2 separate regions of the Homo sapiens genome follow, and region 2 is linked to region 1. Evidence: fine-mapped expression QTL. Tissue or cell type: whole blood. Region 1 holds a variant in brackets; the other region holds the start of a gene. All regions are shown on one strand. Distances are from middle to middle.

What was found. PIP is the estimated chance that this variant, and not a neighbour inherited with it, causes the effect.
Region 2: EIF3L starts here. The variant in region 1 is fine-mapped to the expression of EIF3L in whole blood (TOPMed, PIP above 0.99).

The regions. Positions count from the first base shown.
Region 1 is chr22:37,867,009-37,875,111 of GRCh38, forward strand. It overlaps EIF3L (eukaryotic translation initiation factor 3 subunit L), which reads left to right. Exons shown (of 13, transcript NM_016091.4): 8 at 3,168-3,339; 9 at 7,362-7,516. Among named protein-coding and RNA genes, the nearest start is that of EIF3L, 22 kb to the left of the region's middle. The variant C/T (reference allele first, on the strand shown) is at 4,197.
Region 2 is chr22:37,845,227-37,853,329 of GRCh38, forward strand. It overlaps EIF3L (eukaryotic translation initiation factor 3 subunit L), which reads left to right and starts at 4,193. Exons shown (of 13, transcript NM_016091.4): 1 at 4,193-4,256; 2 at 4,789-4,837; 3 at 6,054-6,264. The coding sequence starts at 4,224. MIR659 (microRNA 659) reads right to left here and starts at 2,548; the gene lies at 2,452-2,548. It also overlaps a transcript of ANKRD54 not described here. RefSeq lists enhancers at 3,312-3,834, 3,835-4,357, 4,358-4,879 and a silencer at 7,076-7,370.

The DNA of each region.
Region 1 (8,103 bases):
GCGGTGTTTGAGAGCAACTGTTGGTTTTTTTGTTTCTTTGTTTAAGAGATGGGGGTCTTGCCTTTATGGTCCAGGCTGGAGTGCAGTGGTGTGATCATAGCTCATTGCAGCCTTGACCTCCTGGGCTCAAGCAATCCCCCCACCTTAGCCTCCTGAGTAGCTCGGACTACAGGTGCACCCAGCTGATTTTTAATTTGTTGCAGAGATGGGGTCTTGAAATCCTGGGATAAAGCAATTCTCCCTGCTCAGCCTCCAAAAGTGCTGGGATTACAGGCGTGAGCCACCATGCCTAGCCAAGACCAACTGTTTTCTGTACTGGATATTATCAGTCTGTCTAATTTTTGTCAGTTCAATGGGAAAGAAATTCTGGCCGGGCGCAGTGGCTCACGCCTGTAATCTTAGCACTCTGGGAGGCCAAGGCGGGCAGATCACTTGAGGCCAGGAGTTCGAGACCAGCCTGGCCAACATGGTGAAACCCCGTCTCTACTAAAAATACAAAAATTACCCAGACTTGGTGGTGCATGTCTGTAATCCCAGCTACTCAGCAGCTGAGGGATGAGAATCACTTGAACCGAGAGGCAGAGGTTGCAGTGAGCTGAGATCACACCACCGCACTCCACCCTGGGCAGTAGAGTGAGATTCCGTCTCAAAAAAAAAAAAAAAAAAATCAGCGCGGTGGTTCACACCTGTAATCCCAGCACTTTGGGAGGCCGAGGCAGGCGGATCATGAGGTCAAGAGATTGAGACCATCCTGGCTAACACGGTGAAACCCCGTCTCTACTAAAAATACAAAAAAATTTGCCAGGCATGGTGGTGGGCGCCTGTAGTCCCAGCTACTCAGGAGGCTGAGGCAGGAGAATGGCGTGAACCCAGGAGGCGGAGCTTGCAGAGAGCCGAGATTGCACCACTGCACTCCAGCCTCGGAGACAGAGCGAGACTCCATCTCAAAAAAAAAAAAAAAAGAAAAAGAAAAAAAAATCATACTTTTCTGATTTCCCATATTAATTGTCAATTTTGTTTTCTTTGAAGTGATCATCACTATTCTTTGCCTGTTTTCTATTTGATTGCTTTTTTAATTGCATTACGAGAATTCTTTGTAGGATTTTTTTTTTTTTTTTTTTTTTGAGACAGAGTCTCGCTCTTTCGCCCAGGCTGGAGTGCAGTGGCATGATCTCTGCTCACTGCAGTCTCCACCTCCTGTGTTCAAGCGATTTTCCTGCCTCAGCTTCCCAAGTATCTGGATTACAGGTGTGCACCACCACGCCCTGCTAATTTTTTTTTTTTTTTTGCATTTTTAGTAGAGACGGGGTTTCACCATGTTGGCCAGGCTGGTTTTGAACTCCTGACCTCAAGGGATCCACCCATCTCGGCCTCCCAAAGTGCTTGGATAACAGGTGTAAGCGCCACCGCACCCAGCCTGAGAATTCTTTATATATTCTGGATATTCTTTTTTTTTCCCCCCTAAGGCGGAGTCTTGCTCTGTCACCTAGGCTGGAGTGCAGTGGCGTGATCTCAGCTCACTGCAACCTCTGCCTCCCAGGTTCAAGGGATTCTCCTGCCTCAGCCTCCCGAGTAGCTGGGATTACAGGCATGTGCCACCACACCTGGCTATTTTTGTTTTGGTGCTTTTTTTTTTTTTTTTTTTTTTTTTGAGACGGAGTTTTGCTCTTGTTGCCCAGGCTGGAGTGCAATGGTGCGATCTTGGCTCACCGCAACCTCTGCCTCCCAGGTTCAAGCGATTCACCTGCCTCAGCCTCCCGAGTAGCTGGGATTACAGGCATGTATCACTGTACCTGGCTAGTTTTGCATTTTTTGTACAGATGGGGTTTCTCCATGTTGGTCAGGCTGGTGTCAAACTCCCGACCTCAGGTAATCCGCCTGCATCGGCCTCCCAAAGTGCTGGGATTACAGGCATGAGCCACCGCACCCGGCCTGTTTTTGTATTTTTAGTAGAGATGGGGTTTCACCATGTTGGCCAAGCTGTTCTCGAACTCTTGATCTCATGATCCATCCACCTTGGCTTCCCAAAGTGCTGGGATTATAGGCGTGAGCCACCGTGCCTGGCATATTCTTTGTTTTTATATTACAAAATTAGCATTTTGTCCCACAGTCTAGAAGAAGATAATTTTTTGTGTTTTGAGACAGAGTTTTACTCTGTCACTCACACTGGAATGCAGTGGCACAACCTCACCTCACTGTAGCCTCCGCCTCCTGGGCTCAGGCAAAGCCCGTACCTCAGCCTCCTTAGTAGCGGAGACTGCAGGTGCCTGCCACCATTCCTGGCTAATTCGTTTGTGTTTTTTATAGCGATAGGGTTTTGCCATGTTTCCCAGGCTGGTCTTGAGCTCCTGGACCCAAGTGATCTGCCCACCTCAGTTTCCCAAAGTGCTGGGTTTACAGGGGTGAGCCTCTGATCTCTGCTGGAAGAGTTGAAGAACAGTCTTAGATCTTCTAAGACCTAGGTTTTAGGTCTGTGATTTCCAAACCTGATGCACACCAGATTCAACCAGAGAACTTTAAAAAATTGAGTAGGTAGGTCTGTTGTGTTCCATCTGTGTGACTGCTGGAGCCAGGCCAGGAGTGCTTCCAGGTTCTACTTCTGTCCCAAACAGATTCCTGTGGCATATCTTCTCTGTGTTCGTTGTGCTTGGCCAGACGACTCTGGTTGAGAGTGGTAGAGAGGTGACATAGTCTGGGAACTGATGGTCAGCTGTGGTAGGGAAGGCTCACACGTGCAGATACCTATTACCACATCACTGCCCATAACCCAGGGCGTACCACAGTCTAGCTGCATCTGAATAGATGGTACAAGAGCCCCTGTGGTGTTTCTGGTGGCCCGGTCAACTGCATTGTGAGGCCCAGAGACAGGAAGTGACTTTGGGTTGTGTTTGACTCCAGATTGGATGTTTTTACCACAGACTACCTCTAATCCTAGAGATTTTTACTTCACTGTGTAGTAAGTAACATTCAGTAATGAACAGAATTCACAGTTTAGTCAAGATGGCTTTGAAAAACAGTGTACGGAATGGTTTAGAATGAGAAGTGGTCATCTCACCCTCACCTTGCCCCATCCAGAGCCAGAGCATTGCCTCGTTTTCAGCATTGTGGACATGGATGATCACTTTGGGCTTATACCACTACTGCATGTTTCTTTTCTTCCTCAACAGTTTCAGTCATTCAGTCAGTACCGCTGTAAGACTGCCAAGAAGTCAGAGGAGGAGATTGACTTTCTTCGTTCCAATCCCAAAATCTGGAATGTTCATAGTGTCCTCAATGTCCTTCATTCCCTGGTAGACAAATCCAACATCAACCGACAGTTGGAGGTATACACAAGCGGAGGTGAGTGCAGCAGGCCGACAGCCGTGGCCTGCGAATTTCCAGCTGCTTGCCATCTGTTCCAAATGAATAGATCACTGCAAGGAGAGCAGATGAGTCACCATGTCTTAGGTGGTGGTCTGTTGACTCTTTGTAGGTGCTTGAGTACAAACAGTAGCAGAGTATTTGTGCTGGGGGCTCTGGGGCTTGGGAGTCCATTGGCCAACAGACTGAACCAGCACATTGAGATTTGCGTTTGTAAACACTTCTGTGTCTCCAGTGCTTTTGTTTAGATAAGCACTTCTCACACGTGTTGGTGTCAGAGCCACTTTACCCTGTTAAAATATTGAGAACCACAAAATGTATCTATTTTAAAAAATTTTTTTCTTTTTTTTTCAGTGAAGAGTGGCATTTTTGCAGATCTCTCTGTCTGGCTGAGATAGCTGGCTTCTCATTTCTGCTTCTGCATTCAATCTGTTGCAATGTGTTCTTTTGTTTGAAGCACATAAAGAAAATCTGGCCCAGGCACTGTGGCTCACACCTGTAATCCCAGCACTTTGGGAGGCTTAGGCAGAAGGATCGCTTGAGTCCAGGAGTTTGAGACCAGCCTGGGCAATATAGTGAGACTTTGTCTCAAAAAAAATGTTTAAATTGACTGAGCATGGTGGGTGGGGTGCCCCTGTAGTCCCAGCTACTCGGGAGGCTGAGGTGGGAGGATTGCTTGAGCCCAGGAAGCAAAGATTGCAGTGAACTGAGATCACACCACTGTACTCTAGCCTGGGCCACAGAGCGAGAACTTGTCTGAAAAAAAAAAAGAAGGAAAATCTGGCTTCACACGGTTATAGGAAGTTTTTTTGTTGTTTGTTTTTGAGACAGGGTGT[C/T]GCTGTGTCACCCAGTCTGGTCTTGGACTCCTGGGCTCAAGCAGTCCTGCCTTGGCCTCCCAAAAGTGCCAGGATTATTGGAGAGGATTTTCTTTGATACTACACCATGTAGTAGTATGTATGGGTTGAATATTCCTGACTTGAAAATTTGAAATCTGAAATGCTCCAAAATCTGACTTTTTGAGCACCAACATGACGCCGTAAGTAGAAAATTCTACACCCAACCTCATATGAGCAGTTGCAGTCAGAACTTCGTCTCATGCACAAAAGTATTTAAAAGATTATAATAAAGTTACTTTCAGGCTGTGTGTATAAGACATATATGAAAAATAAATGAATTTTATGTTTAGATTTGGATCCTATCCTTAAGATACTCATTAGGGCCGGGTGCCATGGCTCACGCCTATTATCCTGGCATTTTGGGAGGCTGAGGCGGGCAGATCACCTGAGGTCAGGAGTTCAAGACCATCCTGGCCAACATGGTGAAACCTCATCTCTACTAAAAATACAAAAAATTAGCCGGGCCTGGTGGTGGGCACCTGTAATCCCATCTACTTGGGAGGCTGAGGCAGGAGAATCATTTGAACCAGGGAGGCAGAGGTTGCAGTGAGCCGAGATCGCACCACTGCACTACAGTCTTAGTGACAGAGCGAGACTCTGTCTCGGGGAAAAAAAAAAAAAAAAAAAAGATATCTCATTAGGCATATGCAGATATTAAAAATTGCAAAATCCAAAACACTTCTGATCACAAGCATTTATAGAAGTATACTCACCCTGTACTTCTTTGAAGTAACCAGTGGTAGTTTCATACAGATTAGGTGCAGTGAGGAATCTGAAACTGTATTGGTGAATTTTTCTTTTGTTAACGTTATTCGTCACTTCTGTAATTTGAATGAGTTCCTTACATCCATGTGTGACTTTTTTTTTTTTCCTGAGACAGAATCTGCTCTGTTGCTCAGGCAGAGTGCAATGTCATGATCTCAGTTCACTGCATCCTCTGCCTCCGGGGTTCAAGCGATTCTCCTGTCTCAGCCTCCAGGGATATAGAAAGGAAGGATTACAGGCACACGCCACCACGCCGGGCTGATTTTTGTATTTTTAGTAGAACAGAGTTTGACCATGTTGGCCAGGCTGCTCTTGAACTCCCGAGCTCAAGTGATCTGCCTGCCTCGGCCTCCCAAAGTGCTGGGGTTACATGCATGAGCCACTGCGCCTGGCCATGTGTGATTTCTAAAAAAATATTGGTTCTCTGAGTTATAAAGATCTTCCAAATGTTGACACATTTTATTACATTTTTTTAAAAAGTCAGATTTGTTACTTTTGCCACTGACATCAGGTAAGCATTTATTTGTAAGCTATAGAGCTTGTAGTGGCAGATACAAGTTTTACAAAATTCCATTTTTGCTTAATAGCTTGAATTTTTATTTATTTTGAGATGGGGTCTCACTCTGTCACCCTGGCTGAAGTGCGGTGGCACAATCATGGCTCACTGCATCCTCTACCTGCTGGGCTCAAGTGATCCTCCTACCTCAGCCTCCCAAGTAGCTAGGAACGCAGGTTTGCACCACCATACCTGGCTGATTTTTTTTTCTTTTTTTTTTGGTAGAAACAAGGTCTCACTTTGTTGCCCAGGCCAATCTTGAACTCATGGGATTTCATGTGTGAGCCACTGTGCCCAACCTTTGAACTGTTTTATAGGTAGCAAACACTGTCAGTTATTTTCTTTGAGGTATGACAGGTTTACTTCATTTTTGTGAAAATGTCTGCCCTTTTTTCCTTCTTTTTTTATTTTTATTTTTTTTGAGACAGAGTCTTGCTCTGTAGCCCAGGCTTGAGTGCAGTGGCACAATCTCTGCTCACTGCAACCTCCGCCTCCCAAGTTCAAGCAATTCTCCTGCCTCAGCCTCCCCAATAGCTGGGACTGCAGGTGTGCACCACCACACCCATCTAATTTTTGTATTTTTAGTAGAGACGGGGCTTCACCATGTTGGGCAGGCTGGGCTCAAACTCCTGACCTCAAGTGATACGTCCGCCTCGGCCTCCCAAAATGCTAGGATTACAGGCATGAGCTGCGCTCAGTTGCGTATCAGTTTTTTTTGTTTTTTTTTTTTTGAGGTGGAGTCTCGCTCTGTTGCCCAGGCTGGAGTGCAGTGGCGCAATCTGGGCTCACTGCAAGCTCCGCCTCCCGGGTTCATGCCATTCTCCTGCCTCAGCCTCCCAAGTAGCTGGGCTACAGGCGCCCACCACCATGCCCGGCTAATTTTTTGTATTTTTAGTAGAGACGGGGTTTCACCTAGCCAGGATGGTCTCGATCTCCTGACCTCGTGATCTGCCCACCTCAGCCTCCCAAAGTGCTGGGATTACAGGCGTGAGCCACCGCTCCCGACCTATGTATCAGTTGTTTTTTTCAAGTAAAAATGAAAAAAGAATTTTCTTTCTTTTTTTTGTCTTTTTTTTAGAACAGGGTCTCTCTGTTACCCAGGCCAAAATGCAGTAGCACTTCCATAGATCTCAGTCTCAAAAAACAAACAAACAAACAAAAAACAACTGATACAACAATCTCTGGTTATTCAGATATGGTACCTGGGCTCAAGCACATCCTCCCATCTCGGCCTCTCAAGTTGCTGGGATTAGAGGTCTAAGCCACCAAGCCTGGCTAAGGACTAGTTCTTTTAGTGCAAATGCATGGCAAGAAGCAATGCAGTGACTACTGGTACAATTTTGTGTCGTTGCCTGATTTATGCTTAAGTTGACAGTAATTTTACCCAACATAGTGTTTGCATCATGCAAAATTCAACTCAGTGGGAAGGGCAAGTAACATCTTAGTGTTGTTATTAGGAAAATAGCTTTGACCTCATGTGCTTTCTGAAAGGAGGAGTCTTCGTGGTTGTATTTTACTGATGAGAGGGGCCTTTGCATGTGTTGGGACCAAAAAAAAAATAAGCAAAATGAACTGCCATCCTGTAAGCAAATATTGGTAAATCGAAGATTAGCATAAGATTGGTTTTGCTGTTTCTTGGTATTCCTTTGAAGTTATTCCCCAGTTGTTGAGGGAAGCTTTCAAGGCTGGCAGTAGGTGAGATGCCTACTGAGTAACATTCAGAGGTCAGGTGTGCCTGCCTTTACCTGCCTCCTATCAGTATTCACGGTGTCTGTCTCTTTCAGGTGACCCTGAGAGTGTGGCTGGGGAGTATGGGCGGCACTCCCTCTACAAAATGCTTGGTTACTTCAGCCTGGTCGGGCTTCTCCGCCTGCACTCCCTGTTAGGAGATTACTACCAGGCCATCAAGGTGCTGGAGAACATCGAACTGAACAAGAAGGTGATGCCTATTGCCTCTGGCCCCTCTTGCCAGAGCCAGAATATCTATTTCTAGAGAACCACTCTGATCTCTTAGGACAAATTTCCAGGAGAGGAAAGAGGACTGTTCCCTCAGGCCATTGAAAGTTGAGACTAAAACTGGGCAAACAGCTGTGGTAAAAAGCTAGACCTGGACGATTTTGGTAGTTAACAACAGTTTTTTATTTTGTTTTCAAAATGGAATGATGATGGCAGCTTGCTCTGTCACCAGGCTGGAGTGCAGTGGTGTGATCTCAGCTCATTGCAACCTCCGTCTCCTGGGTTCAAGCGATTCCCCTGCCTCAGCCTCCTGAGTAGCTGGGACTACAGGCATGCGCCACCATGCCCAGCTAATTTTTTTTTTTTTTTTTTTTTTGTATTTTAGTAGAGTTGGGGTTTCACCGTGTTGGCCAAGATGGTCTCGATCTCCTGACCTCGTGATCCGCCTACCTCGGCCTCCCAAAATGCTGGGATTACAGGCGTGAGCCACCATGCCTGGCCCATGGCAGCTCTTTGCTCTTCACATTTTGCTAAAGGATTGAGAAGGCCAGACGCAGTGGCTCACACCTG
Region 2 (8,103 bases), 22 kb before region 1:
AATAGTTTAGTTCGACAGCCAGTCACTGAGCCAGGTAACTGCTAGGTCCTGGACACAGGATCAGACTTGGTGCCCCTGAGATGCTCACAATCCAATGGGAGAAGACCAGGAAACAAATAAGTGTTCCTCAAGCAACATTTCATGGGTGCACGTTTTCATAAAACTTCTCACAATCCCGTACCCCACAAGCACTTCTATAAAGTAGACAAGAAGGACCATCCCTATTTTATAGGTGAGGAGTTGAAAAGCAGAGGGAAGAGACTCATTCACAGTTGCCCAGCTCTCACCGGACCAGGTCTTGTGTCCTGGCAAAAGTTCTTTCCATATATAAACCCTCCCACTCAACCCAGTTAAAATGTAATCTTTCCGCACGGTGGGTCACGCCTGTAATCCCAGCACTTTGGGAGGCCAAAATGGGCAGATGACAAGGTCGGGAGTTCAAGACAAGCCTGGCCAACATGATGAAACCTCGTTTCTACTAAAAATACAAAAATTAGCTGGGTGTGGTGGCGCACGCCTGTAATCCCAGCTATTCAGGACACTGAGGCAGGAGAGTAGCTTGAACCTGGGAGGCAGAGGTTGCGGTGAGCTGAGATCGCACCATGGCACTCCAGCCTGGGTGACAGAGCGAGACTCCATCTCAGAAAGAAACAAAAACAAAAAAAAGGCCTGGCGCTGTGGCTCACGCCTGTAATCCCAGCATTTTGGGAGGCTGAGGCAGGCAGATCACGAGGTCAGGAGATTGAGACCATTCTGGCTAACATGGTGAAACCCCGTCTCTACTAAAAATACAAAAAAATTAGCCTGGTGTGGTGGTGGGCACCTTTAGTCCCAGCTACTCAGGAGGCTGAGGCAGGAGAATGGCGTGAACCCAGGAGGCAGAGCTTGCGGTGAGCCGAGATCGCACCACTGCACTCCAGTCTGGGCGACAGAGAAAGACTCCATCTCAAAAAGAAAAAAAAAAGTAATCTTTCTCTTACAATTGGAAAAGCACTTCCAGAATTTTCAGTGTTTGCAGTCGCCATTGTGAGGTTTATCATTGTACTATATGGAAAAAAATGCTATGTTTATTTGTACTCTCCTCGTCTGCCCCATAATGGATACAGTGCTGAGACAGGATCTCTCACTGTCACTCAGGCTGGAGTGCAGTGGTGTGATCACAGCTCACTGCACTCAAGCTTTCCTCCCACCTCAGCCTCCTGAGTAGCTGGGGCCACAGATGTGTACCACCGTGCCTGGCTAATTATTTTTTTGATTTTTTGTAGACATGGTCTCACTTTTTTGTTCAGGCTGGTCTTGAACTCCTCGCCTCAAGGGATCCTCCTGCCTCCACATCCCAAAATGCTGAGATTACAGGAGTGAGCCACAGTGCCTGGGCCCCAATTTTTTTTTAAGATGGGGTCTCACTATATTGCCCAGGCTGATCTTGAGCTCCTGAGCTCAAGTGATCCTCCCACCTTGGCCTCCCAAAGTGCTGGCATGAGCCACCACATCCAGCCCCATGAAAATCTTCTGACTTCACAACTCCTTCTCAAATGTCATGAACATTTTGAGAATTGTTGTCAAATTGGAGCAACCTGTATCAAATTCCTGTCATATATGGACTATAAGATTTCAGGTAATTTCTTTTCTTTTTTTTTTTTTTGAGACGGAGTCTCGCTCTGTCGCCCAGGCTGGAGTGCAGTGGCAGGATCTCGGCTCACTGCAAGCTCCGCCTCCCGGGTTCACGCCATTCTCCTGCCTCAGCCTCCCAAGTAGCTGGGACTACAGGCGCCCGCCACTACGCCCGGCTAATTTTTTGTATTTTTAGTAGAGACGGGGTTTCACCATTTTAGCCGGGATGGTCTCGATCTCCTGACCTCATGATCCACCCGCCTCGGCCTCCCAAAGTGCTGGGATTACAGGCGTGAGCCACCGCGCCCGGCCAATTTCTTTTCTTTTTTCTTTTTTTTTTTGAGGCAGTTTTGCTCTTGTTGCCCAGGCTGGAGTGCAGTGGTGCAATCTTGGCTCACCACAACCTCCGCCTCCTAGGTTCAAGTGATTCTCCTGCCTCAGCCTCCCGAGTAGCTGGGACTACAGGCATATGCCACCATGCCCGGCTAATTTTATATTTTTAGTAGAGACGGGGTTTCACTATGTTGGCCAGGCTGGTCTCGAACTCCTGACCTCAGGTGATCCATCTGCCTTGGCCTCCCAAAGTGCTGGGATTACAGGTGTGAACCACTGTGCCAGGCCTCGGAGAAGGGTTATTATTTAAACTAGAAACTAAATGTCTCCCAAAGTTAGCTCGGTTCGAGCCAGGAATGATTAAGGGCAGTCTGAAGATTAAATGGAAGATGAGGGTTGGTTAGATCAGATCTCTTTCACTGTCATTATTTTCTCACTGTTACAATTTTTGCAAAGGTGGTTTCAGCAATAAAAATATTTCACAAATTTTACAAAAGCAAAGGACCATGAGGACATTGTTGGGGACCCTCCCTGAACCAAGGAAGAGACTGTGACTCTTCCTTGGTTCAGGGAAGGTCCTGAACCAAATCGAGGGTCGGTAAAGCTTAAGCTCCATTATTTCCAAATTTGTGTCACCTCTGGTGACAGCACAAGGAAGAAACACAAAACAAGAACGCAGCATAGGGAGTTGGGGCTGGGCATTGCAATTCTCAATAGGATGTTGAGTGGATGGCATCAGAGCAGACACCTGAAGGTGCCATGCAGATACCGATGGGGAAGGGAATGGGAGTGGGGGTGCCACTGCATTCGATTCTAGACTTGGATAACAGTGAGTGCAAAATCCCAGAGGTGGAGCGTGCCTCAGTGGGAAAAGCAAGGAGGGCGGCGTGACAAAGGGACCCAGAGAGTCCTGGTCACACAGCAAATCAGTGGCGGAGTAGGGACTGGAACTCGGATTTCCACTAGGTGTTGTGTATGGGCAGATGGCTAAACTAAGGCCTCTCCTTGACTCATACACCGGTTTTTATTGGTTTGCTTTATAACCCCATCTCTACCTTGAGGGTTTCCCCTGGCCTCGAACCCGGTGTACTCAAGAGCTGCCCATGTCCCAGGCTTCGCGACACAGCTGGCCTCATCTTTGCCTGCTCCAACTTTAATGTCCAAAGTTGGGTGGCTCCTGTTCTCCATTCCCTCTTACTGCATGGGACCAAATCTCAATTTTTTTTTTTCTTTTTTTTTTTAGACGGAGTCTTGCTCTGTCGCCCAGGCTGGAGTGCAGTGGCGCGATCTCGGCTCACTACAGCCTCTGCCTCTCAGGTTCCACCGATTCTCCTGCTTCAGCCTCCTGAGTAGCTGGGATTACAGGCGGACGCTACCACTCCCGGCTAATTTTTGTATTTTTAATAGAGACGGGGTTTCGCCATTTCGGCCAGGCTGGTCTCGAACTCCTGATCTCAGATCATCCACCCGCCTCGGCCTCCCAAAGTGTAGGGATTACAGGCGTGAGCCATCGCGCCCGGCCAAATCTCAATTTTTATCCCCAGTAAGTTTAGTCTTGTGAAGTCCGAACGTTTGAATAATTTACTCGCTGCAGGCAAACCGCCTACAACTAAATCCATCAGGCCCCCGTATCCGAATCTTCCTTCACGCGAGAAGCCGGCCATCTTTTGTGTAGCATTCTTTCTGGTTCCTCTAACTTTGCCTCTCCTTTACGCCAAATACGTGTCCTTATATCTGAATCTACACCACTATTATAGATTCACCTTCTTTGAGAAGTCCCTATTTGAAGAGAGGAAAATTCAGGCTACTTGTAACCCTCTTATTCTTTTTAGACGGAGTTTTCCCTCTTGTTGCCCAGGCTAGAGTGCAATGGCGCGATCTCGGCTCACCGCAACCTCCGCCTCCCGGGTTCAAGCGACTCTCCTGCCTCAGCCTCCCGAGTAGCTGGAATTACAGGCATGCGCCACCACTCCCGGCTAATTTTGTATTTTTAGTAGAGACGGGGTTTCTCCATATTGGTCAGGCTGGTCTCAAACCCCCGGCCTCAGCCTCAGGTGATCCGCCCGCCTCGGCCTCCCAAACTGGTGGGGTTACAGGTGTGAGCCACGGAACGCGGCTCCTCTTCCTTCTGGATATGGCTGTCTCAGATGGCCAGAGGCCTCGGAAAGGCTTCCGGTTTCCCGGCAGGCCCGAGTGGGGCTGAACTTCCGGCCTCAGGACGCAGGCGCGGGCCGCTCATTTCGCTCTTTCCGGCGGTGCTCGCAAGCGAGGCAGCCATGTCTTATCCCGCTGATGATTATGAGTCTGAGGTAAGGTGGCCGTAAGGGCGCGGTGGGCTCCACGACGGGGTGATCTCTGGGACCACTGGATGTGGGTCCCGGCGCGAGGCAGCTTCCGGGTCGCGGCCAGCTCCGGCCGACCTCCCGCCCGGCCCTCAGGCTGCTCCCACAGTTCCCGGTCCCTAGACAACCCTGGCTCTGCCCGCCCACTTCGCGTGTTCGATTGGCTTGTCCTTCCCCTTTCTAAGACCGGAGACTAAGGCCTGTTAGACGTTTCTGTGTTTCTGCACCTGAGTTTTTTTGGTCTAGGCTCCGTCTGGTCAAATCTCGCTGATTCCCACAGCCTCTTGTCCTTTGCTCCACCTCATTGCACCCGTAATGTTGTATTGTCATTGTCTGTTTACTGTCCCTTTTCTCTAAGGCGTGTGAGTTCCTCAAAGGCAGGCACAGTGTCTTATTCGCCTCTGTATCCTTAGCTCTCTGCTTGGCATCTAGACTCTAGGATGAGCGTTTTGAATTCACGACTTGGCGGCTGTCCTTGACTGTGTCTCTTTCCTTCTAGGCGGCTTATGACCCCTACGCTTATCCCAGCGACTATGATATGCACACAGGTGAGACCACGGGTTAGGCTGGCTGAGTACTCGTAGGGATCAGTTCCTTTGGAATGTCTTAGAACCAGCTCTGACAGGCATCAAAAATTGCTCTTTGATGGTCCAGGTTTGGAGTCAGTCATTAGCTGCCAGTGCGAGGGGTTTTATAAAGCCTAATAAACCAGGCTTTTTATCATAGTCCACCTCAGTCTTGGAAGAGAAGGATTACTTACCTGGCTATGGTTTTCTTGTGTAAACTATTAGCCAAATAAGAAAAGCTTTTTTGTTTTTGTTTTTGTTTTTGTTTTTGAGATGGAGTTTCCCTCTGTCCCCCAGGCTGGAGTGCAGTGGTGCGATCTCGGCTCACTGCAACCTCCGCGTCCCTCGTTCAAGCAGTAGTTCTCTTGTCTCAGCCTCCTGAGTAGCTGGGATTACAGGCGCCCACCACCATTCCCAGCTAATTTTTAAATTTTTTTAATAGAGACGAGGTTTCGCCGTGTTGTCCAGGCTGGTCTTGAACTCCTGACCTCAGGTGATCCACCCGCCCCAACCTCCCAAAGTGCTGGGATTACAGGCGTGAGCCACCGCGCCTGCCCCAAGGAAGAAAATCTTGATGTGAAAAATTTAAGTAATTCAAACCAAGCCCGAATGAAATCTTTTTAGGAGGTGTCTGAGGTTTCCTGAAACGTTATAGTGACTTGACTTAGTAGTCAGTGTTATCCATTGTTCTAAGTACTTTGTATGAAATATTTTGTTTAATCCTTACAGCAGTTCTGTATGTTAATGTCTCCTAAAGAATAGAAAATATAGCAGAGAGGTTTATTAGTAGTAACTTGGCACAGTCATATATTTAAAAGGTGACAGTTATTCATTCAAGAAATATTAAGTACCTGTTACCACTTACTTTCCAACAGTCTTGCCTCTCTCCCCTCCAACGCACACTTTTCTAGGCCCTGAGGGTATGTCTGAGTACAAGACAGACGAGATTCCTGACTTCCTAGACTTGGGAGAAGGGTGCAAAACAGATAATAAGTGAAAAATAACTTTAAGTCATGGTAATATTTTTGAAGAAACAGGGACAACGAGATTGGGAGTGACTTGAGATGTTTGTATCTCTGAGTATTCAAAAGGGAATTTTACGCAGACCTGAGTTTAGTTTCTGGGGTGGTCTTGCCATTTCGTTCTATCATATATGTGGGTTTGAGCATACTCTGTATTTGTTGTATCCAACCTCCAGGAGATCCAAAGCAGGACCTTGCTTATGAACGTCAGTATGAACAGCAAACCTATCAGGTGATCCCTGAGGTGATCAAAAACTTCATCCAGTATTTCCACAAAACTGTCTCAGATTTGATTGACCAGAAAGTGTATGAGCTACAGGCCAGTCGTGTCTCCAGTGATGTCATTGACCAGAAGGTGTATGAGATCCAGGACATCTATGAGAACAGGTATGGGCTACTGGCTGAAAGGGCCTCTTTCTGGGTGGGACTGGCCTGGTAATATAGTTCCTACAAATGAGGTGAGCACTCTGTAAACAGTACTTTCGGGGGGGTTGGGGGGTGGGGGTCTTTGTGAGTCCTTGAGGCTAGGGACATTTTATTTTGTTAGACTTTATTTTATTTATGCATTTGTTTATTTTTTGAAACGGAGTGTCACTCTGTCGCCCAGGCTGGAGTGCAGTGGCAAGATCTCGGCTCACTGCAACCTCCGCCTCCTGGGTTCAAGTGATTCTCCAGCCTCAGCTTCCCGAGTAGCTGGGACTACAGGCATGTGCCACCATGCCTAGTTAATTTTTTTGTATTTTTAGTAGAGACAGAATTTCACCATGTTGGCCAGGCGTGTGTTGAACCCCTGACCTCAAGTGATCCACCCGCCTCAGCCTCCCAAAGCACTGGGATTACAGGTGGGAGCCACCATGCCTGGCCTAATTTTTGTATTTTTAGTAGAGACGGGGTTTCATCATGTTGGCCAGGCTGGTCTTGAACTTCTGACCTCAAGTGATGTACCCCCGTTGGCCTCCCAGAGTGCTAGGATTACAAGCGTGAGCCACCATGCCCGGCCTGTTGGACTTTATATCCTCAGAAATTTATACAAAGCCTAAAATAATATCACTATTAACAATTATAATAATAATGATTAGCATTTGTTTTTATTACCAGGATAGATCCATCAATGTTCAGTGTGTTGTTTGTGTTTTTACTCATTTACCCTTCACAGTAAGCCCATGAAGTAGCAGTTTTTCTCATTTTACAGATGAGGAAACAGCACAGAAATAAGTCATGTAGCTAGTTTAATGGATGTGCTGAGATTTGAACCTGCAGTGTCTGGCACCAAAGCCTAATTTCTAAACTGTGCTATGCAGCCCTTCAGTACATATCAGAGCAAGCTGAACTCCGCAGGTTTTGAGGGGCTGCCGTTGTGTAATGAGCGTTAGAGATAAGATAGGTCAGTCAAAGCTGGGATAGTCAGGAGTGACTTCACCAAGGAAATAGAATTTAAGCAAGTCAGAAGGATGAGGGAGAGAAAACAAATAGCCAAAGGCCTATTGATCAATGAATAGGATCTCTGACATGTGTTTTCTTTTTTTGTTGTTTTGAAAGAGCTGATTGTAGTTGAAAAGCAGAGGAAACCTCAGACATTGCATGGTTTTAGGCCTCACCCCTGCCACTCTCGTGAGCCTAAGTTCTACTTGGTGTGGACTCCAAGGTCCTTCCCGCCCCTGCAAGCCACCCATTAGGTTGAGCTGAGAGATCAGCCAATGGGAACAGAGTCACTTATGACCAAGAAGAATTGATCTGGGGGTTAGTTAGTGAGGAGAGAGAAAGGGAGAAAACCTTGTTCGGAGGTTGAACACCTCCAGCCGAAGAAGGTGCAGCATCGAGGTCTTTCACCACTAGCAAATGGATCCAAGTCATGCGGCACCAAAAGAGGTTAGCAGCTGAAGGGTGTTGAAGTGACACAACACCAAAACATGCTACCAATGATGAATCCGTATCTGTACAGGTCTCCAGCAGCCTCAGTTCTTGCCTCCTCAAAAGAAAGAATTCGACTGAGGGGTAAAATGCTACCGATGATGAGTCCGTATCTGTACAGGTCTACAGCAGCCTCAGTTCTTGCCTCCTCACAAGAAAGAATTACACTGAGGGCTAAAATGCTACTGATGATGAGTCTGTATCTGTACGGGTCGACAGCATCCTCAGTTCTTGACTCCTAACAAGAAAGAATTCGACTGAGGGGCACAAGGCAGAAGAAGAGAGGGAGGCAAGTTTGAGAGCAGGAGTGAAAGT